Linked DNA regions of Homo sapiens: all the other regions are linked to region 4. Evidence: fine-mapped expression QTL. A gene starts in region 4. Each other region holds a variant in brackets. All regions are shown on one strand. Distances are between the middles of the regions.

Region 1 (5,085 bases), 25 kb before region 4:
TTTCATCCCCTTGGCAAGAAGGAATACTCATAGCAAAACACTTATGTTGACAAGATACAAGAAAACAGACAAGAGAAAGAAAAAGACAAATAAGAAAACAGGTCAAAAAATACAAAACAAAACCCAAAGGCAACTTGAAATGGACAGTGTTCTTCCATAAAAGGACTCAAGAAATAGCAGACACCAATGTTCAAGAGGCTTCCATCTATTAAGATCACATTTCTATATGCTGTTTCGGGAATACCAAAAAGTAAAGCAAATGACAATTTTAGATAATTTACTAAAATGCAAAAATAAATGGTCATTTGAAGAAAGGCGGCTAGTAAGAATACTAATTTAATAATAAATGGGCCGGCGCAGTGGCTCACGCCTGTAATCCCAGCACTTTGGGAGGCCGAGGCAGGTGTATCACCTGAGGTCAGGAGTTCGAGACCAGGCTGGCCAACATTGTGAAACCCCGTCTCTACTAAAAATACAAAAATTATCCAGACATGGTGGTGGGTGCCTATAGTCCCAGCTACTCAGGAGGCTGAGGCAGGAAAATCGCTTGAACCTGGGAGTTGGAGGTTGTAGTGAGCCGATATTGCACCACTGCACTCCAGCCTAGGTGACAGAGTGAGACTCTGTCTCAAAACAAATTAATTAAATAAATGATATCACATGACAAAAAATAAAAAATGTATTTGACAAGCGAGAAAAAAAGATGATTTTGAGGAAAAGAAGCATAAACTAGCAATGAACAAATGGAATCTGAGGAACTACAAATGGTACCTCTGCAAGAAAGATAAGAGGAAAACTAATAAGGAGAAAATAAAAAGAAATTGACAGAAGTGATAGAAGTGAAATGAGAGCAGGGGATACAACAAGAGAAAGGGGCAAGGGAGAGAAACCGTGGTATTTGGATCCCATGACATGCGTGAGTGAACAGTGGACATCAAGTACAGGCAGTTGTGAACCACTTTATGGAGGCCACAGAAAGTGGGCTGCTGGGAGGCACCTGCTGCTTCCAGCCCTCTTCAGAGGTTTAGTCACTGTCCTTTGATCCTTGATAAATATTTCACATGCAAATGCATATGTGTATATTTTTAAAGTCAAGTTTGAGGGGGAATTAAGAGGTGACAGATAAAATTCTGAAAATTTTCACTTTGCCCAAAATGAAAGATGAGAGGAACCAGGCAAGGAAAAGAACAGCTGGAACAGCAGACATCTCCATCTTACGTTTATAACTTAATTTCAAGGTGCCCAAGTGATAAAGAGAGAAAAGTGAAAAGTGAAGAAAAAACAGGACTAAAAGAAAAAAGAAGTAGGAAAAATGAAATATTTCACTTAGTTAGAAGTCATTTATTAAATATTCACAAATATTTGTAACACAATCAGAAGAATACAAAAAATCAAAAACGAAAATCCAAATCCAAGTAGGAAAACTAATGCCATAGGCACAGAATGACACCTATGCTATTCTAAGAAACTTGGTTCCTCAGGGTAGGGCAGAACCAGCACATTACAAGGGAAACAGGAGCAAAACAAATGACAAGGAGATCAAAAAACTATAAACAGCTGCCATGAGTACTGAACTCTCTGTCCAGCAAAAAGCTACATCCCACGACCTCCAGAGACATCAACATATTATAGCACAGTACAAAAAATTATGTTACATGTGCTTTAAGACAGAAAAATAAATTGATAAATATCTATTATCTTTTTTAAACCATCAAAAAATTTAAGAATCCTGACCTACCGAGGACAGCAAAAATAATAATAATGATAAAAAAAACTTGGCCAGGTGTGGTAGCTCATGCCTGTAATCCCAGCACTTTGGGAGGCCAAGGTGGGAGGATTTCTTGAGGCCAAGAGTCCAACACTACCCTGACCAACACAGTAAGAGCCCATCTCTTAAAAACAAACAAACAAAAAAACCATAAAACTGAAACTTAAAAAGGAATATGCTTGTTAGCTGGAAACCAGCGATGTGTA[G/T]AACATTCCATGCCCCACCAGTGTCAGATAAAAGCACTACTAGAGAGTCCAGAGGCTAGATGATAAGGCAGTGTAAGCCATTCTGACTCCAACAAATAAATTTACAATTATTAATAAACAATTATTTACAAGTATAAATTAACAATTATTAATAAAAGACTCTTAGGGCTGGGTACAAGGGCTCAGGCCTGTAATCCCAGCACTTTGGGAGTTCAAGGTGGGAGGATCACTTGAGCCCAGGAGTACGAGACCAGTCTAGGCAACATAGTGAGATGCCTGTGTCTATAAAAAATTTTTAAAAAATTAGCTGGGTATGGTGGTACACGCCTGTAGTCCCAGCTACAGAGGAGGCTGAGGTGGGAGGATGGCTTTGGCCTGGGAGGTTGAGGCTGCAGTGAGCCATGACAGTGCCACCGCACTCCAGTCTGGGTGACAGAAAAGAGCCTATCTCAAAAAAATAAATAAAGGACTTTTAGGCAAGCTGCTAAAACATAAATAATCAATTTCTGTTTCCCAGAGTATAAAGAATCTTTAGCGCTAACATAATCTTTAGTATTATTTGGAGTTTTCACCAACTATACACTAAGAATAGCCTTTGTCACTTAGGTAAAAGAAGTTTAGATGAAATGAAGGTGATGAATAAAGCAATGCCACTAAAAAACAACCGCAGCAACAAAAGAAACCACAACTAGGTGATAGATGACAAACTTGTGCTGATAGTTTAAGAAGAGAGCAACTGGGAGATGACCCAAAATCCTTAAGAAGCTGTCTGGTTTACATACACTCAATTTTAACTTGTTCTTGTTTTTCCTGTTGTGCAAGGCGAGCTGCAACTTCTTCAGGTGGTCGCTCCCTTATAGAAGATGAGGATGCTTCTTCTTGCAGCAAAAGTAAATAAGAGGAAATCAAATTTCAGCATAGAATTTTAATAGCTAACAGGGATATAAAAAAAGCATCGTTTGTACTGGCCAGTTATATCAATGCAGGGCATTTTTGTGTTAAGAATTCTAAAACCATATCATTACTCTTAATGATTCCAAAATGAAGAAATAGGAATCAGGCTTTAATCTTCTTGTTTAAAAAGATACATTCGGACATTTAAATTTTAAAAATTTCCTAAGAAACTCTGAAGACCTAAACCTAGTGTAAATGTATACTTAGTGTCTACGTGTTGCCTAGGCATTAAATAGTTCTGATGAGTGTATCATGTATAAAAGAACAAATAGAAATAATTAAATTACCTGAAAGTGCAGGTGTGGGTTTTCCTTCACCAATTTCAGGGTGATCAGTTTTTAAAGATTCCTCAGGCTGAACTGCAGGGGCTGGGACCGACAGGGTATCACCTGCTGCAGAAATAATTTGAGCCGCTTCTGTAGGTGCTATAAATATATGTTACTCATGGTATTTATACTTTCCTGGGTTAACAGAGAAACACACAGAAATTTACTACCACCATCACCACCCACTTCACATCTGACTCCTTAGAGACACAAATATTTGTACTGCCACATGTTTGAATAACACACAAACAGGGGCACTGTCCACTGCATACATAAACTCACACAAAATGGACAATGGTTGGGAACGAACAAAAGAAAGAAGTCTTGTCTGCATCCACCTGCATTTTAACCATCATTATTCCAGGCAAGGCTTATAATAATAATATTAACACACAAGAAGGGGACATTTACACATGGAAAAAGAGTAACAAAGGAAAAAGCCTGTTAATGATGAAGACAGACAAAAGAAAGCAACTAAACAAAGAATATTTTTTAATTGCTTTGAAGAGTGGTAGAAGACGTGTGAGCAGGAAAAAGATTACAGTTTTAAACAAAAAGATGAAAGGTCACAGTGATCAAGAACAGAACTGAGTTAAAATACATATATATATATATATTTTTTGCACACTTTGGGAGGCCAAGACCAACCTGGCCAACACAGCAAGATCCCATCTCTATCAATCACTCAATCAATTTTTTGTGTGTGTAGTATATTTTTTTTTTTTTTTTTTTTTTTTGAGACAAGGTCTCACTCTGTTGCCCAGGCTGGAGAATAGTGGCACTATCATGGCTCACTGCAACCTCGACCTCCCAGGAACAAGCAATACTCCCACCTCAGCCTCTGGCACACAGCTGGGACTATACGTGTATACCACCACACCTGGCTGATTTTTACATTTTTTTGTAGAGACAGGGTCTCCCCTCTCTTGCCCAGGCTGGTCTCAAACTGCTAGGCTCAAGTGATCCTCCCTCCTCGGCCTCCCAAAGTGCTGGGATTACAGGTGTGAGCCACTGTGCCCGGCCTTGGTTTTAAAGTAACAGTCAATTATCAATCCCCTGGCTCAGCATTCTCTTCCCATCCCACCCAGCATATGAAACAATGTTTTTTTTTGTTTGAGACAGAGTCTTGCCCTGTCACCCAGGCTGGAGTGTAGGGGTGCAATCATAGCTCACTGCAGCCTCAACCTCCTGGGCTCAAGTGGTCCTCCCTCCCGAGTGCTGGGACTGCAGGCATGCACCGCCATCCCCAGCTAATTTTTAATTTTTTATAGAAACAGGATCTTGCTAAGTTGCCCAGGCTACTTTCAAACTCCTGGGCTTAGGTGATCCTCCCGCCTTGGTTTCCCAAAGTGCGGGATTACAGGCATGAGCCCATGCACCTGGCCTAAAATAAAATTCTTACAATGGCTTCCAAGGACTGCCACAATAAACTTTTTGCTCCCTCTCTGACCTCATTTGCTCCTGTTCTCCCCTTACTCAATTCACTCTAGCCTCATTTGCCCTTTGTTTGAATATATCAAGCCTCTACACCAGCTAATCCTGCTGCCTGGGATGCTTTTCCCCACCACCCTTTTACATGACTTACCCCCCTTATCTCTTTCTAATCTTTGCTCAGATAACCCCTTCCAGGTAAGGTATTCCTTACACATTCCATTTAAAACTGCAGTATTCCCTCCCACAATGTCTGACATCCTATACGTTTTACTTGTTTATTTCCTCTCCGCACCCAATCAAGAAATATTAGCTGAAAAAATTTTTTAACTGTTTTTGTTCATGGCTGTTTCCCCAGTACTTACAAGAATGTCTAGCACAGAAAAGACAGTAAATTTCT
Region 2 (5,093 bases), 32 kb after region 4:
TTATATTTTTAGTAGAGATGGGGTTTCTCCATGTTCGTCAGGCTGGTCTCGAACTCCCGACCTCAAGTGATCTGCCTGCCTCGGTCTCCCAAAGTGCTGGGATTACAGGTGTGAGCCACTGCGCCTGTCCTAATCCCCAGCTCTTCTATAAAGGACTTAAAAAGCTGAGCACTGAGAGCCTTAAAAATAAAGCAATGCAGGGAAAACAGGACACGTCACATAATGCAGTTTCCTGTCTTGCTCACTGCCGATGTGGGAGGGGCATGTCATGCCTCCGCGGCACCAGGGCTGGAGCAAAAGCTATATTAGGCACCTTGCGTGCCTTCCTTCCTCCCCTGACACCAGCCAGCAGGCTGCAGGCCAGGCACGGCCCCTCTTGCCTTCCAAGCCTAAGGCAGCTTCTCTATGGGGAGCCAGGCAGTGTGAAAGGGGCACTGGATTAGTCCAGGACCCTCACTAGTCCCTAATGTGTCTACTTAAGGTTAGGCAACTGGAGAAGCAGGTCATGGCAACCACCAGGTGGCTGTGGCTCCAACAAGCCATCACTCACACGCTGGGAGGGCAGCAACAGGAGTCTCTGTCCAGAACCGGGAGACCTCCACTCTCCCTGGGGTCTCCTGGATGCTCCAGGCTATCACCACCACCACCACCACCACCACCACCACCACCACCACCATCATCACCACCACCACCACCACCATCATCATCATCATCATCCTCATCATCCTTCCCAGGATTATTATGGCCCTTTCACAGCCACTTTCACAACAGCACAGTGAGGCCGGGAAGCAGGGATCTCATCTCCGTTTTAAGAGGAGGAACTGAAGCTCACAGCGGTTAGGTGATTCACGCAAAGTTGCACAGCAAGTAAGTGGCAAAGCAGGAACAGGGCTCCCTTGGCTGCCCCAGGACCAGAAACCCCTGGAACTTCAGGACTTCATCATTTCAGAGGACCTTAGTCCTCTGAAGTTCCTGTGTCCTTACCTGGAGCACAAGGAAGTATGACCCTGTTGTGGCTTTTTCTTTTCTTTTTTTTTTTTTTTTTTTGAGACAGGGTCTTGCTCTGTCACCCAGCTTGAGTGCAATGGCACGATCATGGCTCACTGCAACCTTGATTTCCCAGGCTCAAGCAATTCTCCTGCCTCAGCCTCTCAAGTAGTTGGGACTACAGGTGCACACCAGCACACCTGGCTTTTTTTTTTTTTTAATTGTAGAGATTAATTCTTGCTATATTGCCCAGGTTGGTCTCGAACTCCTGGGCTCAAGAAATCCTCCCACTTCTGCCTCCCAAAGTTCTGGGATTACAGGCATGAGCCACCCCGCCCAGTGACCCTGTGGTGGTTTTAAGATATCTCCACACATTCTTTGATACTCCTCCCTTCAAGAGGTGGAGATTAATTCTCCTCCCCTTGAATGTGGGCTGTGCTTAATGACTTGCTTCCAACAAATAGAATAAGGCAGAAGTGATGAGTGTGACTTCAAAACCTAGGACAGAAAAGGTACCCTGGCTTCCTGCCTGCCCTCTATCTCTTGAATGGCTCACTCTAGGCCAGGCCACCTGCCACGTTGTAAGGACTCTTAAGCAGCCTTGGAGAGGCCCAGCCAACAGCCATAAGAGTGCCATCTTGAAAGTGGACCCTCCAGTTTCGTCAAGCCCTCCGATAACTCAGCCCAGGCTGACATCTTGACTGCAGCCTCTTGAGAGACCCTGAGCTAGAACCACCCAGTTAAGCTGCTCCCAGATTTCTAGCCCACAGGAACTGTAAGCTACTGTGTTTGCTGTTATAAAGGGTTAACCTCCTGACCCCTCCCTATGACCATGCAGCTGAAAGGGAGCCCCAGGGTCAGGTGCCCACTCCTGGTTAGAAGCTCTTTCCGAGTGAGAGTCCAGCACGCTGCGGAGAGGCTGGCTGCTTACTCACCTTTCCAGGTCCTGCAGGTGGAGCAGCAGGTACACACTGTGGGAATGGGGTAGGGGCACCATCAGTGACATCCCCCACTGGACAGGAACCAGCCCCGGGCAAACAGGGAGGCCCTGGAGAGGTGTGGGGATCCCAGTGTGTACAATATAGGGATCCCAGGAAGGTGGGTCTCTGTAGAGACACCAAAGTGGGGAAAGAGTCATCTCAGATTCAGTTTCTGCTCAGGTGCAGAAGATACCCTCACCTGGCACACAAAGTCAGTCCTTGCACCCTGCAGCCCTAGGGAAGGCCGGAGACAGAGTCAAAGTTCCCTCTGGAAAATAACTCCAAGCACCCCTGCCCAAAGCCTCCTCCTCTCTTTGCTTTCCAGTTCAGAATGTCCTCCAGGAAACCTCCCCAGACTTACCTCTGAACCCCAAAGTGCTTCGCATCTGGGCATTTGCAAAGGCCTAACTGGCTGCTGCCTTGTACACGCCATTGGTCTTGGTGCACATCTGGGCCTTGGCAATAGAGTAGGTGCTCACTAAATACATGCTCACTGAGTGACTCCAAGTCCATGGAAGGCCAGGATCATTCTTTCAACATTTCTTGTACACTTCCTGGTGTCCAGTGCTAGGCATTCAGCATATGGTATCTGACTACACACCTTCCAGCTCATTCTGCAGGGAGGGCCATGTCAGTCCCTGCCTGCCCTGACCCTTTAAGCAAAGAGGAAAACTCCAGGCAAGAGAGAGGGTCAGGCCAAGTACACTGCCCAGCCCCATCCTGGGTGCTGAAAGCAACAGGAAAGAACTCTCCTTCCCCTTCTCCAACGCCTAGACCCTGTGTCCTCACTGCACATACAGAGGTCTCTGTGTGCCAGGCATGTGGTGAGTATGTTGGGTAGGCATTTACAGAGGGAAGCACAGAACCCTTGTCTGCCTGCCAGGAGCTTGCAGCGCTGAGTGACCGTGCAGGGACAGTCTTTGTGCCCCTTCCTCCCTTCCTCGTTTGTGTGCATCTTCCT[C/T]CCTTTTCTCAAGATGCAGGAGGTCACATGGATGTCCCTTCTTGGCTCACAGCAAATGGTCCACACTGGTTCATGGGATCCCCTTCACTTTTTTTTTTTTTTTTAATGAGACAGAGTTTCACTCTTGTTGCCCAGGCTGGAGTGCAATGGCATGATCTCAGCTCACCGCAACCTCTGCCTCCCGGGTTCAAGCAATTCTCCAGCCTCAGCCTCCCGAGTAGCTGGGATTACAGGCACCCGCCTTCACGCCCAGCTAATTTTGTATTTTTAGTAGAGACAGGGTTTCTCTGTGTTGGTCAGGCTGGTCTCAAACTCTCTACCTCAGGTGATCCACCCGCCTTGGCCTCCCAAAGTGCTGGGATTACAGGCGTGAGTCACCGCGCCTGGCAACCCTTTTTATGTGCCTTTACATGACTTTTATTCCCACACCCCACTCACATTCTCCTTCCTCCTCAAGGAGTGTCACTTTTAATATTTTAATGTGCAACTTTTTGTTTGAACATGTTCTTCATATAAACTCCGTATTGTTACTTTGCATGATAGGCATATATTTTTTACATAAATTGTTAGATAAAATCTCATTCTGTTTTGCACTTTTCTTCACCTGGCATCATGCTTTCAAGTTCCACTGTGTGCACCCTTAATCTGTTGCTTCCAGCAGCTGCAGAGAATTCCACGAGGTGCAGCTCCCACCTCTCTCCAGGTTGTCTTCAACCCCTGCCACCTGTCCAGGGTTTGCAAATTCTCTGGTTTGCTCTCCTCACAACCCTAAGACATAGGCTGAATAGGGACTATTCGGTCTTTTTTACAAAGAAGAAAGCCTGAGGGAATCAGGTCTGTCCTCTGTGCCAAGGCCAAATCTATGGTAGCGACTGCCTGGGTTGTTCTGAGAGAAGTTCTGAGGCTGAATTGAGGCTCAGGAGGAAGGAGCATGCCTTGCTGTGCTGCATTTGCTGTGTCTGCACAGGCCCGGCATCACCCAGCCAGGATGAAGTCTAGCCTCTTCCCCTTTTCTGGGGCCCTTTCTGCTACCTGATCTGGCCTGGCATCTGAGGCCCACACTGGGGGCTGAGCTGGGGAGAGTACACCAGCCCGGTATAAATTGGCTTCCTCTGCCAGACTTCCTCCTAGGCATGTTGACCTTACTTCAGGGTATGATAGCCCAAGAGCCTCTGACCCAGGAAATTCTGCCCCATATCCACGCCCCAGGCCATCTTTCACCTGTCTTCCTTTTTTTTTTTTTTTTTTTTTTTTTTTAAAGATGGAGTTTCACTCTTGTTGCCCAGACTGGAGTGCAATGGTGCAATCTCATCTCACTGCAACCTCCGCCTCCCCGATTCAAGCGATTCTCCTGCCTCAGCTACTCCATGAGTAGCTGGGATTACAGGCATGCACCACCACGCCTGGCTAATTTTGTGTTTTTAGTAGAGACGGGGTTTCTCCATGTTGGTCAGGCTGGTCTTGAACTCCCGACCTCTGGTGATCCACCCTCCTCAGCCTCCCAAAGTGCTGGGATTACAGGCGTGAACCACTACACCCAGCTCCTGTCTTCCTTTTTGAGATGGCTTTTATTTTAGGCTCCAGAACAGCTGGAAAGAGCACTACACTGTCCTTGGCCTCCCTGCTGGGTTGCACCTTTCCTCTTTGCCCCCTGTGGTCATAGGTGCGGAGGCCAAGGGGGCCAGCAGTGAGGAGGGCTGGGGCATAATGCAGCACAGCTGGTCCTCTCAGCCTGGGACAGCCAGAACACTCCCCACTGCCTCCCTGGGGCATGGCAGGGGACGTCATCACCTCTGCTCATGGAGAGTGGCAGAGCCAGTGCCAAAGCAAATCATCCCAAATGCTTTTCTACCTGATGCTGGGCTGGGAAGATACTCCAGGCCCAGAAGACACTGCCATCTCCCTGCAGACCCTGCCAGCTTCTTGCATTCCCAGTTCTGAGGCTGCCCTGAATAATTCACCAGGGGAGGTCTAGGCAGGAGGCCTGGATTCTGGGCCTGGGGGCCTCAGCCCAGTGCACAACCTCTCTGAGCCTGCTTCCTCCACTGGGCTCACCTCTAAAATGGCAACACAGACTCTTAGAGGCAAAGGGACGCCAGGGCCACCTAAGCCCGCTTCCTAGCCAAAGCAGGAATCCCTCCCTCGAACCTGACCATCCAGCTTTG
Region 3 (5,105 bases), 72 kb before region 4:
TACGTCAAATTACATGGTTAATAGGGGTTATGTCCCTGTCTACGTCACTTCAGGTGTTTAAGTTGACGTTGAGTGCATAAAGTAGTGGACAACATTAAGTGTGTAGCCCTGAAGACCACCGCTAATATAAAAAAATGACACATTTTAACCTAACAGGCTTTAGTTCTTCATTGTTTCAAGGTTTCTTTATCTTTCTGTCTCTTACCCACAGGAACCACTGTGTCTCTTGAAACAACAAATAGTCTCTTGGATTTATTGTGTTACTATGGTGACCAGGAGCCCTCAACTGATTACCATTTTCAACAAACTGGACAGTCAGAAGCATTGGTAATAACTGTTGGCCTTGATTTTTTTTTTTCCTTAAGCTTCTTTTTGAAGAAATTGCTTTTAAAAATAAGATGGGTTGTTTTGCCATGTGTCAGGGTAGTAGAGATTTGTACTGAGATGTGTGGTACGATAGCCTTGATAAAAAGTGGTATAGGAGGAAGAGAGATTTTAAACAGTTACTTCTGTCCTAGTTTACTTTTTAACAATATGTTGTCCTCACCTACTTCATATTAAGGCAAAGCGTTGATCAGAAATGTTTGGGCTGGCCTGTGCCACTTAGAGTAATGACATGATGTATTCTGGCCAGGGAAAGACTCCGTGGCCTGGGCCCCCTCAAAAATTCATACGTGGACTTAGAGGAGAGAACACACTAGGCTGGAGACAGAACAGTAGTGTGCCGGGGCCCGCCTGTAAGTTGAGTCATAGCCTCTCTCTCGACTCGCGAATTTTACTTCTAGAACTAGGTCTCAAGAAATCCTTTGGATCAGTCAAATAGAGATGCTCATGTGACATTTTTCATGAGGAGGTATTTATACTTGCAAAAATGTTGAAAACAATCTAGATGTCCAACAGTAGATGATCAAATGATGATAAAAGTTGTGTGGCCATTGAGCACATTAGAGTAGATGTGTTTGGGTATGGAAACATTCATCCAATAAGTGGGAAGCAGGCTATCAGCAGTATATATTCCATTTTTGTAAAAATGTTTTTACAAATGCATACAAAAAAATCATTTAAAAAGTGTTTCTGGGTGATGGGATTATTGGTGTTTTTCTTCGTTTCTATCTTTTCTACTCTTTGCCCAACTAAATGTGGATTTCTTGTTTCCCCCTCAGAGACAGGGTCTCACTCTGTCACCTAGGGTGGAGTGCAGTGATGCTATCATAGCTTACTGCAGCCTTTAACTCCTGAGCTCAAGTGTTCCTCCTTCCTCATTCTCCCAAATAGCTGGGACCACAAGTGTGGGCCACCATGTCTGGCTAGTTTTTTTTGGGGTGGGGAGGGCGGGTAGACATAGGGTCTTGCTGTAGTGCCCAGGATGGTGTCTTCAACTCTGGGGCTCAGGTGATCCTTCAGTCTCCTAAAGTTTTGGGATTACTGACCACTGCACCTGGCCAAATGTGGATTATTTATGTAGAGAACTTTACATTTTTAAAAGTGCATAGGCAGTAGGTTGCAGTTAAACCTTGCTTTCCAGAGTATCACTTCCTGAAGCCCTGCTCTGGTTGGCCCTCTGCCTCTCCAGCCCCAGCTCTTGAGGCAGCAGGCTACAGAGCCAACACTGACCTCTGCAATGCCAACCAAGCCTGTATTGCTCTACGTCAGCCTCATCCCAGACCTTGGTTTATAAATAAAGACAAGATTTATTCTTGTAAGAAGTCTTGCCAGGTGCAGTGGCTCATACTTGTAATCCCAGCACTTTGGGAGGCCGAGGCGGGTGGATCATGAGGTCAGGAGATCGAGACCATCCTGGCTAACATGGTGAAATCCCGTCCCTACTAAAAAAAATACAAAAAATTAGCTGGGCGTGGTGGCACGCGCCTGTAGTCCCAGCTACTCCGGAGGCTGAGGCAGGAGAATTCCTTGAACCCAGGAGGTGGAGGTTGCAGTGAGCCAAGACCACGCCACTGCATTCCAACCTGGGCGAGAGAGCGAGACTCTGTCTTAAAAAAAAAAAAAAAAAGAAGTCTTAGTTTGCTTGGGTGAGTGTTAGGCATTAACTATATGTTGTTTATCTTGCTTTCACCCTAATTATGACAGTTTATCTGTATGGATCAAGCCAGATGTAGTCTCTGAGCAAATAGGCTGTGTTGTTTGGTTTTCCTCTTTCTGTCTGAGGACCAGGCCATACAGGGAACTGGCTTCATCTTGTCTCCACGCTGTCACTTGTTGCTTTGAGAGTCAACTTGGCCTTTCATCTGATTTGCACTTAAGAAATTAACTGTATAGGTGTAAGCGTAACTGGGCTTCCTCTTTGCCTTCTGCTGGATCTATGTTTCCTTTATTTTTCTGAGTTCCCTTTGCCTTTCTGATTTTGAGTAGTCTGACTGGGAAATGCATTCCATTGCCTTAACTTTTATTTCTTTTGATGATTATTCATTTCAGGAAGAGGAAAATGATGAGACATCTAGGAGGAAAGCTGGTCATCAGTTTGGAGTTACATGGCGGTATGTCACACGTAATTAGAACCTTGAATTACAGTGTCTTACAGTGCATGGAATATGCCCCATCACCCTGTGAAGATGTTTTCTTGTGATGTTCTAAAATAATTGATTTTTATTGTGCAATATAAATTTCACTATTTGTATTCATACACATTTAGACCGTT[T/C]TTCAATAAGGTCTTTATCTCCATTCAACAACACAAGAATCTGTTGAGACTTTGACCCTTTTTTTTCCCTCATCTGTTTAACTCAGCATAACTTTCATATGGTATGGTTCCTTTGGTAGTTTCATTAACAGTGCTACCTTGGAATATATACCTCTAATTCTGAAAGATTTAATACTTTTGTTTACTAAAAATATCATGGACACTAGAGTGTACTGCTAAATTAAGACCACTGACAACATGTAGACATACACAGCAGTTTGAATGAAAGGTAATAACTTAATTATATTGGAGAATTAGCTGGGTGTCTAAAAGGAAGACACTTCATGTGAATGTCTGGAGAGGGAAAGCTACCATGATTATCTAAAATTGTTATTGAAGTGATGAATTTGATAGGATGAAAGATTAAATTCCTTGGGGTAGGCTGGACGCAGTGCCTCACACCTGTAATCCTGGTGCCGTGGGAGGCCGAGGCAGGTGGATCACTTGAGGTCAGGGGTTTGAGACCAGCCTGGCCAACATGGTGAAACCTCATCTCTACTAAAAATACAACAATTAGCTAGGCGTGGTGGCACGTGCCTGTAATTCCAGCTACTCGAGAGGTGGAGGCAGGAGAATCACTTAAACCCAGGAGGTGGAGGTTATGGAATGAGAGAAGAGTTAAAAGTACATATGCTAGAATATGACCAGAAGGATCCAAAAGAAACCGTTTTGCCTCTGGGAAGTAGTATCTGAAGATTGAAGAAAGGTGAGGAAACTTTACTAGGGACTTTGTCATACAGTTGCTTCTTGTTTTTAATAGCACAGATATTTATATACTTGTTTATAAACTTTTCATTTTCAATTGTAATTCTGCCACTTAACCTGCGAAGCCCTGACAACACATTAAGATCGTTAAGTCTTGATTTTCCCCATTTTCAAAATGATAATAACCATAATACCCTGTAAGAATTGAGATAATGTATAGAAAGTACTTGGCACATTGCCTAGAACATAATAAACCGTCAGTAAATGGTGGTAGCTCTCATTGGTATTTCTTATTGCCTGGGTTCACATTTACTCTCTTGTGTCTAGAGCAAAAAACAACGCTGAGAGAATCTTTTCTCTAATGCCAGAGAAAAATGAACATTCCTATTGCACAATGATCCGAGGAATGGTGAAGGTACATTTGTTTTATTTATTTTTGTCTTTCATTTCCACCGATCAGGGTGTTTCAGCCTCAGAACTACTAACATTTTGGGTCAGGTAATTTGTTGTGGGGTCTGTCCTGTGCATTGTAGGATGTTAGTAGCTCCCTGGCTTCTACCCACTGGATGTGAGTAGTGTACTCCTCCCCCACTTTCAGTTGTGACAAATAAAAATATGTTTAGGCATTACCAGTGGATAGAAAATCCCACTGCACTAGAGTATGAGCTTCATGAGAACAGGAGCCTGATCTATTGAGCCTGAGCTATATTACCAAACTCTAGGACAGAAATGTGCAAGGACTTCTTAAGTAAATGAATTTGATGATGCTTAATTTTTCCTTTTCCAGCACCGAGCTTATGAGCAGGCATTAAACTTGTACACTGAGTTACTAAACAACAGACTCCATGGTGAGTTTGAGAACTCCCCTCTGTCCCTTTCTCCATTTCCTTCTTTTAATTGTCTGTGTGAAGGCTTTGGATCGTGCCTCAGTCATTGGCCTACACTTTACCTTTTCCTGAGGCGTAGATGATTGAAGCAAGAGTAGAGATCCAGAGAGGAGAGTAGTTTTCCAGTTTTGTGGACATGTGATTAGTCAAGGGACACATAGGAATGACTGCTTTGCCTTAAACTCAGCCATTTAGGGATTAATCTTCAACCCCAAATTTTATCATTTTATTATTTTACAGCTGATGTATACACATTTAATGCATTGATTGAAGCAACAGTATGTGCGATAAATGAGAAATTTGAGGAAAAATGGAGTAAAATACTGGTAAGGAGGAATCCTCAGTTTATTTTTTAATAGGGCTTAAATACTCTTTACCAGAAATACATGGGCTGGCCAGGTGTGGTGGCTCAAACCTGTAATACCAGCACTTTGGGAGGCCGAGGCGGGCAGATCACCTGAGGCCAGGAGTTGGAGACCAGCCTGGCCAACATGGTGAAACCCGTCTCTACTAAAAGTACAAACAATTAGCTGGGCGTGGTGGTGCACGCCTGTAATCCCAGCTACTTGGGAAGCTGAGGCAAGAGAATCTATTGAACCCGGGAGGCGGAGGTTGCTGTGAGCAGAGATCGCACCACTGCACTCCAGCCTGGGCAACAGAGCAAGACTCCGTCTCAAAAAAAAAAAAAAGAAAAAGAAACAGAAGTACATGGGCTGGAGACAGCATTTATGAGCATGTGTATGGCAGTCACTGTGTAGCAGTTACCTGTTCACTACCCTTTCCGCAGCCCTGGGACTCAGCTGTGTCTGGCACATAAG
Region 4 (5,099 bases):
GAGTAAAGAATGGACTCTAGGAGGGAACAGTAAAAGCAGTAAGACATTTAAGAAGATGGGGTTGGCTGGGCACGGTGGCTCGTGCCTATATTCCCAGCATTTTGGGAGGCAGAAGTGGGAGGATCATTTGAGCCCAGGAGTTCGAGACCAGCCTGGCCAACACAGAGAGACTCCGTCTCTACAAAAATTTTTTAAAAAATTAGCCAGGGATGGTGGCACATGCCTGTGGTCCCAGCTACTCAGGAGGCTGAGGTAAGAGGATTGCTTGCGCTCAGGAGGTCAAGGCTGCAGTGAGCCATGACTGTGCCACTGCACTCCAGCCTGGGTGACAAAGTGAGACTCCGTATCCAAAAAAAAAAAAAGAAAGATGGGGTTTAATAAAGTGGAAAGGATCTTGACAAGTGAGATATTCTGGATACGTTGATACAATCAAATACGACGAGGCTAGAGAGTCACCTGCTTGGGGATTAAAGTTCTGAGAGTTGATGTAATCTCAAATTAGAGAGTCTATAAAGAGACAGGAAGAGATGAGAAGGTGTATATTTCGAGGTACAAAGCAGAAGCAGACTCAGTAAAGGAAAACAAGAGAGATGGGACCCAAAATATTACTTGAGAGAAGCCAAAAGTACAAAGAGCCTCATAAAGCAGCAATGTCAAATGCTACAGAATTAAGGAGATGGTGAGAATAAACCAAAGAATTTTACAAGACAGCAATTTCAAGAAGCTTAGACATCTTGATTCAGAGCTATAAAAGGGTTCATTTTTTATTACCAAGTTTTAATTAGTTTTCTTAATTCCCAAATGGGATCCCAAAAAGTTGACTCTGAATTAACTGAAAAGGAGGTCATCCAGGTGGGCCTGGTCTAATCACATAAGCCTTTTAAATCTGGGTCTAGAGAGGAAAGACCAAAGTAAAAGAAATTTGGAAGTCAGAGAGGCAAGCTCCTGGTAGCCTGCACGAAAGCAAACATCAATGTTATGAATGGCCTCTAGAGGCCTTGAGGCAAGGAACTGTAGGCAGGCTGTAGAAGCTGGGAGCAGTGGCTGGCAAGAGGCAGCAAGAAAAGAAGTACTTCAGTCCTGTAACTGCAAGGGACTGAATTCTGCCAACAAACTGCATGAGCCTGGAAGAGGACCCTGATCTCCAAATGAGAACCACAGCATGGCTAATACTTTGCAGCCTTATGTGACCTGGAGCGGAGAACACAGATCATCCGTGCCCAGACTTCTATCCTACAGAACCCGTAAGGTCATTCATGGGTGTTGTTTTAAGCTGCTAAATTTGTGGTATTTGTTACGCAGCAATAGAAAACTAACACAGGTTCGTTCCACTTTCCTATGGAAGGGGCTGCTTCTGTTACCTAGCAGCAAATAGGAAGAGAAGCGAACTTGAAAAAACAAAGCTTGACTTTTATGATCTCTAACTCACTATTCCTAGGGATTCTGTTCAATTACTGCTTGAGTCACAGTACTTGGTTTGCTATCTACATTTTGCCAAAATATCAACTTCCTGAAAATCATGAGCAGTGGAAACAGGCTTTTTAATTTTCAATTTTAGAAAGTAACTTTGGCAATTACGCAAAACTAGAAGTAACTGGGTATTTAGGCTCCTTGAATGTCAAAGTAGTCCCAGCGCCTGGAGACACAGATCCCTGCCCTAATCTCAGAAATGAGCCACAAGGTCATGACTCCTGTCTTTCCTTGAAGACCAGGAGTTTCAGCTCCACAAATGAAAATCTTTCGCTTTTGTTTGGATTAAGAATAACTCAGAAGTGTTCTCAGCTGCGAAAAGAAAGGCACTCCCTCCCAGATAATTACAACCTTGACCCCTAAAATGTGGACTCTCGCTAGAAGTCCAGGCACCTCCTTATTAAGGATGCAACAAGCCGCCGCTCCGCTCGTCCTGACGGGAACTGTAGTTCTCGCCCGTCGACCTTCAGCACTGAAAACCTATCGCGCGCCCAACCGGCGACCCAGACGCCAGCAGCCAGGATTGGTCCTGGACGGGGGCAGCGCGGCCCTGATTGGACTACATGCCCACGAAGCCGCGCCTCCCGCTACTCTCCACACCCCACCCCGCTGCTGCAATAACCTCAAGTCATCCCAGTCCGGCGAACTCCCTGGTGGCTGCCTAGCTGCCCGCCCGGGCCTCTCCCGACGAGGGTGGCCCTGAGGCTCGCCTTTGTCCTGGAGGCTAGGCAGCGACCAAGGCTCCCCCGTTTTTCGCTGACGGTTCTAGTTCAGCCTCCTCACGCGCCTCCGGGAGCCCCAGTGCTCACCTGGGCGGCGGCGGTCACACCCGATAACTGACAGGCCCGCAGCATCTCGGTCAAGCGGACGGCGCTGCTGGTGGACTCGAGCTGCCGCGGCGGCGCGAGTTAAGTGGAGGCGTGCTTGCGTGTGTGCGTGCCCGCGTCCGCGCCCGGCGCACCGGAAGCACAGCGGACGCCACTGCGCACGCGCGGCCCCTTCTACCGTCCCCGACTCCGCGGCTCTTAGAGGGTGGGCTGTGTCCCGGCTGCGGAAACGCCAACTCCAGGCGATTGGCGCGAAGGAGGCGAAAAGGGCGGATTCCCTTTCCGGGTCGCGCCCGGGCTGCAGGTCCTTATCCGGAAGGGGTTACTAGGTGAACACTGCCGGAGGGAGAGCGCTCTGAAATCCATTCTTCAGCCGCACGTGGAAAATGGACAGCTGTGACTCTTAAAGAGAATTAAAGCAACAAAGCATCTCAGCCTGCTCTATGAGCTGGATATTTCGTAGGAAGGAGCCGATTTGGCGAAAGTTACGTAAACAATGGAATTGTCTCAGTTTGCGCCTTTGTTTCGTTTGACAGCCCTCCAGGGAGTCATAGTGATTGCTGGAGACGGTGAACTAACACTGTGGGGACCCTTGTGCTAAACGTGTCAAGTGGCACAACAAGGATAGGAACACGGGTCCTTTGGACTCCACAGCTTCTGCTCCTTCCAGATTAAGCCACACTGCTTTCTCCAAGTTGTTACTGTAGTAACATCATTTTGGCTGCAGTTTGTGGATGGGTTGGAAGATGGGAAGTCAATGCAGAAGCACCGTTGAAAGTATTCCACTGGGCAGGGCGCGGTGGCTCACGCTTGTAATCCCAGTACTTCGGGAGGCCGAAGCGGGAGGATCGCTTGAGCCCAGAGGTTCGATACCAGGCTGGGCAACACAGTGAGACCTCGTCTCTATATAGAAAAATAAACAAACAAAAAATTTAAAAAGAAAAGTAGGGCCAGGAGCTATGACTCACGCCTGTAATCCCAGCACTTTGGGAGGCCAAGGCGGGTGGATCGCCTGAGGTCAGGAATTCGAGACCAGCCTGGCCAAAATAGTGAAACCCCGTCTTTACTAAAAATACAAAAAATTAGCTGGGCATGGTGGCGGGTGCCTGTAATCCCAGCTACTCGGGAGGCTGAGGCAGGAGAATTGCTTGAGCCCGGGAGGCGGAGGTTGCAGTGAGCCGAGATCACGCCATTGCACTCCAGCCTGGGCAACAAGAGCGAAACTCTGTCTCAAAAAACAAAAGTATTCCATTGATTCTGTAATCAAAATAAAACACGTTAAATATTAAGCATGGTATTAATACTCCATGTATACTCCAGAATTAATATGTTCGTATTAATACTATTAGCATCTTATTGCAATATCGTGGAAACTAACTTTTCTATCTTCTATTGGATTTGCAAAGTATTCCAAGTCTTAACTGGGTAATTTATTACAATATGTATTCTCTCTAGAGGTAGACTGCGCTATGACTTGTAGCATGGAGAGATGGACTTGAAAATTATCTGAAAGCAATAGTTATGTTTGTATATGTTCTATGTTCTATGGTTTTTAGGGGACTACAGTAATTACATATGTTTCATATCTCTTTCACTTAGCTTCCAGAGCAGTCTCCCGTTTTCTTTAGTAATTTTAGCAATTGAATTGCTGCCTCCCTGCCCACTGCTGTCATGCCCAGTGGTGCCGGTGTGATGACTTTTCTAACACCCTTGTCTTTGAACTTCTTAATGCCAGTGAACGCTTTCATCCTGCTTCAGTCATGTGGTGCCCGTGTGATGACTTTTCTAACACCCTTGGCTTTGAATTTGTCAATGCCAGTGAATGTTTTCATCCTGCTTCAGTCATGTACGTCACAGCCACAACTTGCGCCTGAACATCATTAGCAACCTCTCTAGCTTCAAGATCTCAAACCTCAAAATTAGCCTCCCAACCCCTCATAACCTACGTGGAGAGTCCTCACTCTCCACTTGGAAGTTGTCAATATTTTTGCTTTAAAATGTTATCAGGCAGGCCAGGCGCTGTGGCTCACACCTGTAATCCCAGCACTTTGGGAGGCTGACGCGGGCGGATCACCTGAGGTCAGGAATTCGAGACCAGCCTGGCCAACATGGTGAAACCCCGTCTCTACTAAAAATACAAAAATTAGCTAGGCTTGGTGGTGCGCGCCTGTAATCCCAGCTATGTGGGAAGCTGAAGAAGGAGAATCACTTGAACCTGGGAAGCAGAGGTTGCAGTGAGCCAAGATCACACCACTGCACTCCAGCCTGGGGGACAAAGCGAAACTCCGTCTCAAAAAAAAAAAATTTGTTACCAGGGGCTGGGTGTGGTGGCTCATATCCCGGCATTTTGGCAGACTGAGGTGGGAGGATCACTTGAGCCCAGGAGTTTGAGACCTGCCTGAGCAAAAGAGTGAGACCTCTCCCAGCACTTTGGGAGGCCGAGGCGGGCGGATCATGAGGTCGGGAGATCGAGACCATCCTGGCTAACACGGTGAAACCCCGTCTCTACTAAAAAAAATAATAATAATACAAAAAATTAGCTGGGTGTGGTGGCAGGCACCTGTAGTCCCAGCTACTTGGGAGGCTGAGGCGGAGAATGGTGTGAACCCGGGAGGCGGAGCTTGCAGAGAGCCAAGATCGCACCACTGCACTCCAGCCTGGGCAACAGAGCGAGAGTCTGTCTCCAAAAAAAAAAAAAAAAAAAAAAAAAAAAAAAAAAGTGAAACCTCATCTCTATAAACAATTTTTTTAAATTAGCAGGGGATGATTGTGCATGCCTGTGGTGCCAGCTACTTGGAAGGC
Region 5 (5,105 bases), 700 kb before region 4:
TAATATTTTAAGTGACATGGGAAGCATTGTCAAATAAGAAATGATGTTTAACTTTCTTTTTTTGTTGTTTTGCTTTTCTGCTTTTTTGAGATTGAGTTTTGCTCTTGTTGCCCAGGCTGGAGTGCAATGACACAATCTCGGCTCCCTGCAACCTCCACCTCCCAAGTTCAAGCAATTCTCCTGCCTCAGCCTCCTGAGTGGCTGGGATTACAGGCATGCACCACCACACCTGGCTAATTTTGTATTTTTAGTAGAGATGGGGTTTCTCCATGTTGGTCAGGCTGGTCTCGAACTCCCGACCTCAGGTGATCCGCCTTCCTCAGCCTCCCAAAGTGCTGGGATTACAGGTGTGAGCCACCGTGCCTGGCCTGATGTTTAACTTTCAAATTACATTTTGGATATGTTATTAATGTATGTTCCAAAATTGGCTGGGCACAGTGGCTCATGCCTGTAATCCCAGCACTTTGGGAGGCGAAGGCAAGAGGATCCTTGAGCCCAGGAGATTGAAATCAGACTGGGCAACATAGGAATCTCTTCTCTACAAAAATAAAAAATTTAGCCAAGTATGTTGGCATGCCCTGTGGTCCCAGCTACTCTGAAGGCTAAGGCAGGGGGATTGCCTGAGCCCAGGAGGTCAAGGCTGAGCCATGATCATGCCACTGCACTCCAGTGTGGGCGACAGAGCAAGATCCTGTCTCAAACAAACAAAAAAAAAACAAAAAAAACAAGGCATGGTGTGGTGGCTCATGCCTGTAATCCCAGCACTTTGGGAGGCTGAGGTGGGTGGATTGCCAGAGGTCAGGAGTTTGAGACCAGACTTGCCAACATGGTGAAAACCCATCTCTACTAAAAATACAAAAAAAAGTAGCTGAGCATGGTGGCGGGCACCTGTAATCCCAGCTACTAGGGAGGCTGAGGCAGGAGAATAGCTTGAACCTGGGAGATGGAGGTTTCAGTGAGCCAAGATCGCACCATTGCACTCCAGCCTGGGCAACAAGAGCAAAACTTAGTCTCAAAAACAAACAAACAAACAAACAAAAACAAAATAAGACTGTATGAGATTCCTAAAATTCTGATATGTCTTGGTATAAGTCACAGTTATGGCTATTATGTTAAATTATTACAGTCCACAGAAATAACCAAATTTCCTTGTCAATTGGGTCTTTAACTATGACGATTTTAAATTGTTTCCACAGTTAATTACTTAATTCTGATGCATTTTCTGAAAGCTCTTTACGAGCAAGTAAAATCATAGAGTGTTGTGTCTTCAAGGAGGTTCATGGAAAGAATATAAAGGACCCTGACAAGCACATCTTTTTTTTTTTAAAGACAGAGTCTCATTCTGTCACCCAGGCTGGAGTGCAATAGCATGATCTCGGCTCATTGAAACCTCTGCTTCCTAAGTAGCTGGGACGACAGGCATGTGCCACCATGCCCAGCTAATTTTTGTATTTTTTTGTAGAGACAGGATTTTACCATGTTGCCCATGCTGGTCTTGAACTCCTGGACTCAAGTGATCTGCCCGCCTCAGATTCCCAAAGTGATGGGATTACAGGTGTGAGCCACCATGACCGGCCATTGCCAGATTTTCATGCTAAATCAGCCAGTACTGAAATTGTTAGGATATGCAGTTTGAATGAACTCCATGGTCCAAGTCAGATTACCTGTGATAACCCAGTTTTTACCTATTTATTTATTTTGAGACAAGGTCTGGCTCTATCACCCAGGCTGGAGTGCAGTGGTGCAATCTCGTTTCACTGTAACCTCCTTCGCCACCCCTTCCCCATCCCCCACCTAAGCCCCGCAAGTAGCTGAGACTACAGACATGCACCACCACACCTGGCTGGTTTTTGTATTTTTTGTAGAGATGGGGTTTCACCATGTTGCCCAGGCTGGTCTTGATCTGTGAACTCAAAGATCCATCTGTCTTGGCCTCCCAAAGTGCTGGGATTACAGGTGTGAGCCACTGCACCAGGCCAACCCAGTTATTAAACAGTACTATTCACCTGAATTGGAAAAACAAAATTGGTATTGAAGAAGATATACATCCAATGTTAAGCATAAACTCATGGAGAGCCTGGACAGCTGCCTCATCCTTCCTGAATCCTTAAAGCTTCCACTCTTAGAAGCTCTGTACTCCATGACACATTATGGTAGAGATTAAATGATCCAAATAGAAA[A/ATGTGTG]TGTGTGTGTGTGTGTGTGTGTGTGTGTGGTGTGACCGTTTTAAATTGCTAAAATGGTTTTTGACCAATGCTTAGTTTGTCAAATCCATAATCCTGGGGAAACAATAAAAACTTCAGGTACACTTCTGCTACCTGATTGGCCATTTGAACATTTATAGAGGGAGTTCATTCAATTGTCATTCGGAATGCATATTTTCTGGTTGTATAGAAGCTTTCCCACGAAAGAAGTCTGATGATATAACAGTAGCTAAAAGTTTATTAGGAAGTGTGTTTTTTTCAGGGGGCATTCCTGGAGAAATCTCCAGTGATAAATGTATTTGTTTCATTGAACAAATTGTAAAACAGTTAAATAAGAAACTACAGACAAAATAGTACTAGGCAAAGCTAAGTAAATCAACTGGATTGTCTTGGTCAAAGGTATTGCAGATTGATGACAATTAGATCCACTTTCAGCAGAAAACATCAGTTGACCCTTTATAAAACAGTCACTGGAAGGCCTATGCCCCTAATAATAGAAACTCATGACTAGGCGCTGTGGCTCACGCCTGTAACCCCAGCACTTTGGGAGGCCGAGGCGGGTGGATCACCTGAGGTCAGGAGTTCCAAGCCAGTCTGGCTAACATGGTGAAACCCCGTCTCTACAAAAATACAAAAATTAGCCAGGCATGGTGGTGCATGTCTGTAATCCCAGCTGCTCGAGAGGCTGAGGCAGGAGAATCCCGTGAACCCGGGATGTGGAGGTTGCAGTGAGCTAAGACTGAGCCACTGCACTCCAGCCTGGGTGACAGAGCGAGACTCTGTCACACACACAATAAAACCACACACACACACAAACAAAACAAAACAAAACAAAAACTCATGTATCTTCTGCTCCTAAACTTTGATATGGCTAACTGTGGCTTTAATGCATTATGCCAAAGTGCATTTTCACCAGGTAAGGAAGGTTTTCATGATCCACTGACTGAGGACAATTAAATCCTTCATGATCAAGAACATAGAGATTGGGTCTTCTAGAAACAACACACCTTGCCACCCACACTGCAGCAAAACTTTAGGACTTTGAACCTTGGGTCTGTAATCTCACAACTCAGAAGGGCCCCTCCAGACTCTTAGAACTGTATATCTGTTGGAGACCTCAAGATAAAGCTAACCAGGGAAGTTTCTCACCAGAAGCAGATGGAATCCTAGATGTGGAAAGCTTTCTCAAGATGACAGATCAAGACTTCTTTGCCATCATGAGACTCTTACCTCTCTTAATTTTTTCCTCGCTTATGCCTTTATGAAGACTAGAACTAGAAAAAGTCTTGTGTGGACCCATGGGGTATACTTTTATTTGTGGAGGATTTCACCGCTAACCTTATGCATGAGCAACCTTATGCCTTGATGGATAGAAGATGAAGGGCCAAAGTGGGTGAGGAATTTTCACGGTACCTTTGTAGCTCCATAATCAGTCAGAAACAGAACATTGGTCTATTTCTTTTAACCTACATTATAGGTTGAAGCAAACGTTGCCAGGAGGCCTTCACCCTTCTGAATGGGCATAATTCGTTAGGTTGCTTTTTCCATGATTTGGGGTAAATGAGGCAATGATTAGAAATTTGTCCCTCATAGTAGACTCTATAGCAGATTCAACTATAAACACTATGCTAAAGACTTCTTTAAACTTTTTGCTAAAGTTGTGCTACATAATAGAACTGCTCTAGGCTACTTACTGGCTGAACAGAGAAGAATCTGTGCAGTTGCTGACTACATATATATATATATATATACATACACACACACACACACACACACAGAGAGAGAGAGAGAGAGAGAGAGAGAGAGAGAGAGAGAGAGAGAGAGGAGAGAGAGAGAGACAGGATCTCACTACGTTGCCCGAGCTGGTTTCGAACTCCTGGGCTCAAACAATCCTCTTGCCTGGGCCTCCCAAAGTGCTGGGTTATAGGTGTAAGCCACCATGCCCAGCCAATTGCTGACACTTCTTGTTGCACATGGATGAATATGTCAGGTACTATAGAGATTCATTTGCAGGGGATTAAAAAACTGGCTGCTTGGTCGAAACTCGTAGACCATTTATCAAGCTTATTCTTTAATCTATTTAATTTTAGTTGGTTCAGTTCATGGGGACCCTGGCTAAGCAGCATACTCCAAACTCTTGGTATTGTCCTTCTGGTAGTCATAATAGTCATCTCCCTGGTGAAATATATCCTCTCAAAAATTGTAAATGTTTAATGCAGCCATGCATAGAATGTCAAATGGTCTCTCTTCAACTGGGATGACAAAATCTCAAAGAAATACATAATCATGAGGACACTATAACCTATGAAAGACATGTTGAGACCAGAAACCCAAAATGATCATAACTGAGAGTAGCAATTAGCGATGTTTTGGTCACACTCTCACTTAAGTGACAACATGATCAAAAGGGGAGAATTGTTCAACAAAATTATGGGAGGCCATTGTTTTGGACTGAACTCATGCACTAGGCCCCAACAGACTAGATTGGATCTAACCAAATGGAGTCAACTCATGCTAAATGCAGCACAATCAAACTAAAACTTTAAGGAAGCATATGGATCCCCAAAGAGACCAGATTTTTTTTCTCCAGAAAAGAGGGGATTATAGTATAATAAGGAAGTCGTCTCTGCTCTACCCTTTACAAAAAGGGAATCTAAATTCCTCGTTTCCACCTTATAAAACACAGTGTTCCACTATTTCTCAGTGGGATTTGAAACCAAGTAAGTCTATTTGCTATGGTGACAAAGTGACAGCAATACATAAAGTTTGGTCAACCTCTTCATTTTAAGAGGTTGACTAAAAGGAAGAAATTGTTCAATTAAGTTTAGCCTAAAGCTGCCTGCTTACATATTTTAAGTTTAGTCTGTAAACATATTAAACTGTAACCTAACTGGATGTGTAAACAGA

Alleles and levels. Alleles are on the strand shown, and positions count from the first base shown. SD is a standard deviation of normalised expression in the study named. Not every link is listed here.
For the expression in visceral fat of the gene that starts at base 2,404 in region 4, T is the low allele of the variant in region 2 and C is the other (small effect, 0.20 SD a copy in GTEx).

The links.
Region 1: its variant is fine-mapped to the expression of IMMT in whole blood (INTERVAL, PIP 0.99).
Region 2: its variant is fine-mapped to the expression of IMMT in visceral fat (GTEx, PIP 0.96).
Region 3: its variant is fine-mapped to the expression of IMMT in whole blood (TOPMed, PIP above 0.99).
Region 5: its variant is fine-mapped to the expression of IMMT in macrophages (Alasoo 2018, PIP 0.95).

The regions. Positions count from the first base shown.
Region 1 is chr2:86,167,993-86,173,077 of GRCh38, forward strand. It overlaps IMMT (inner membrane mitochondrial protein), which reads right to left. Exons shown (of 15, transcript NM_006839.3): 5 at 3,216-3,353; 6 at 2,757-2,852. Among named protein-coding and RNA genes, the nearest start is that of MIR4779, 23 kb to the right of the region's middle. The variant G/T (reference allele first, on the strand shown) is at 1,975.
Region 2 is chr2:86,225,441-86,230,533 of GRCh38, forward strand. REEP1 (receptor accessory protein 1) reads right to left here. Exons shown (of 9, transcript NM_001371279.1): 7 at 1,923-1,958. Among named protein-coding and RNA genes, the nearest start is that of MRPL35, 29 kb to the left of the region's middle. The variant C/T (reference allele first, on the strand shown) is at 2,929.
Region 3 is chr2:86,121,268-86,126,372 of GRCh38, forward strand. PTCD3 (pentatricopeptide repeat domain 3) reads left to right here. Exons shown (of 24, transcript NM_017952.6): 8 at 212-327; 9 at 2,434-2,495; 10 at 3,728-3,815; 11 at 4,188-4,248; 12 at 4,528-4,613. Among named protein-coding and RNA genes, the nearest start is that of SNORD94, 12 kb to the right of the region's middle. The variant T/C (reference allele first, on the strand shown) is at 2,657.
Region 4 is chr2:86,193,059-86,198,157 of GRCh38, forward strand. It overlaps IMMT (inner membrane mitochondrial protein), which reads right to left and starts at 2,404. Exons shown (of 15, transcript NM_006839.3): 1 at 2,280-2,404. The coding sequence starts at 2,324. MIR4779 (microRNA 4779) reads right to left here and starts at 50; the gene lies at 1-50. RefSeq lists enhancers at 1,905-1,954, 2,075-2,254, 2,275-2,394.
Region 5 is chr2:85,493,369-85,498,473 of GRCh38, forward strand. No RefSeq gene overlaps it. Among named protein-coding and RNA genes, the nearest start is that of PARTICL, 43 kb to the right of the region's middle. The variant A/ATGTGTG (reference allele first, on the strand shown) is at 2,181.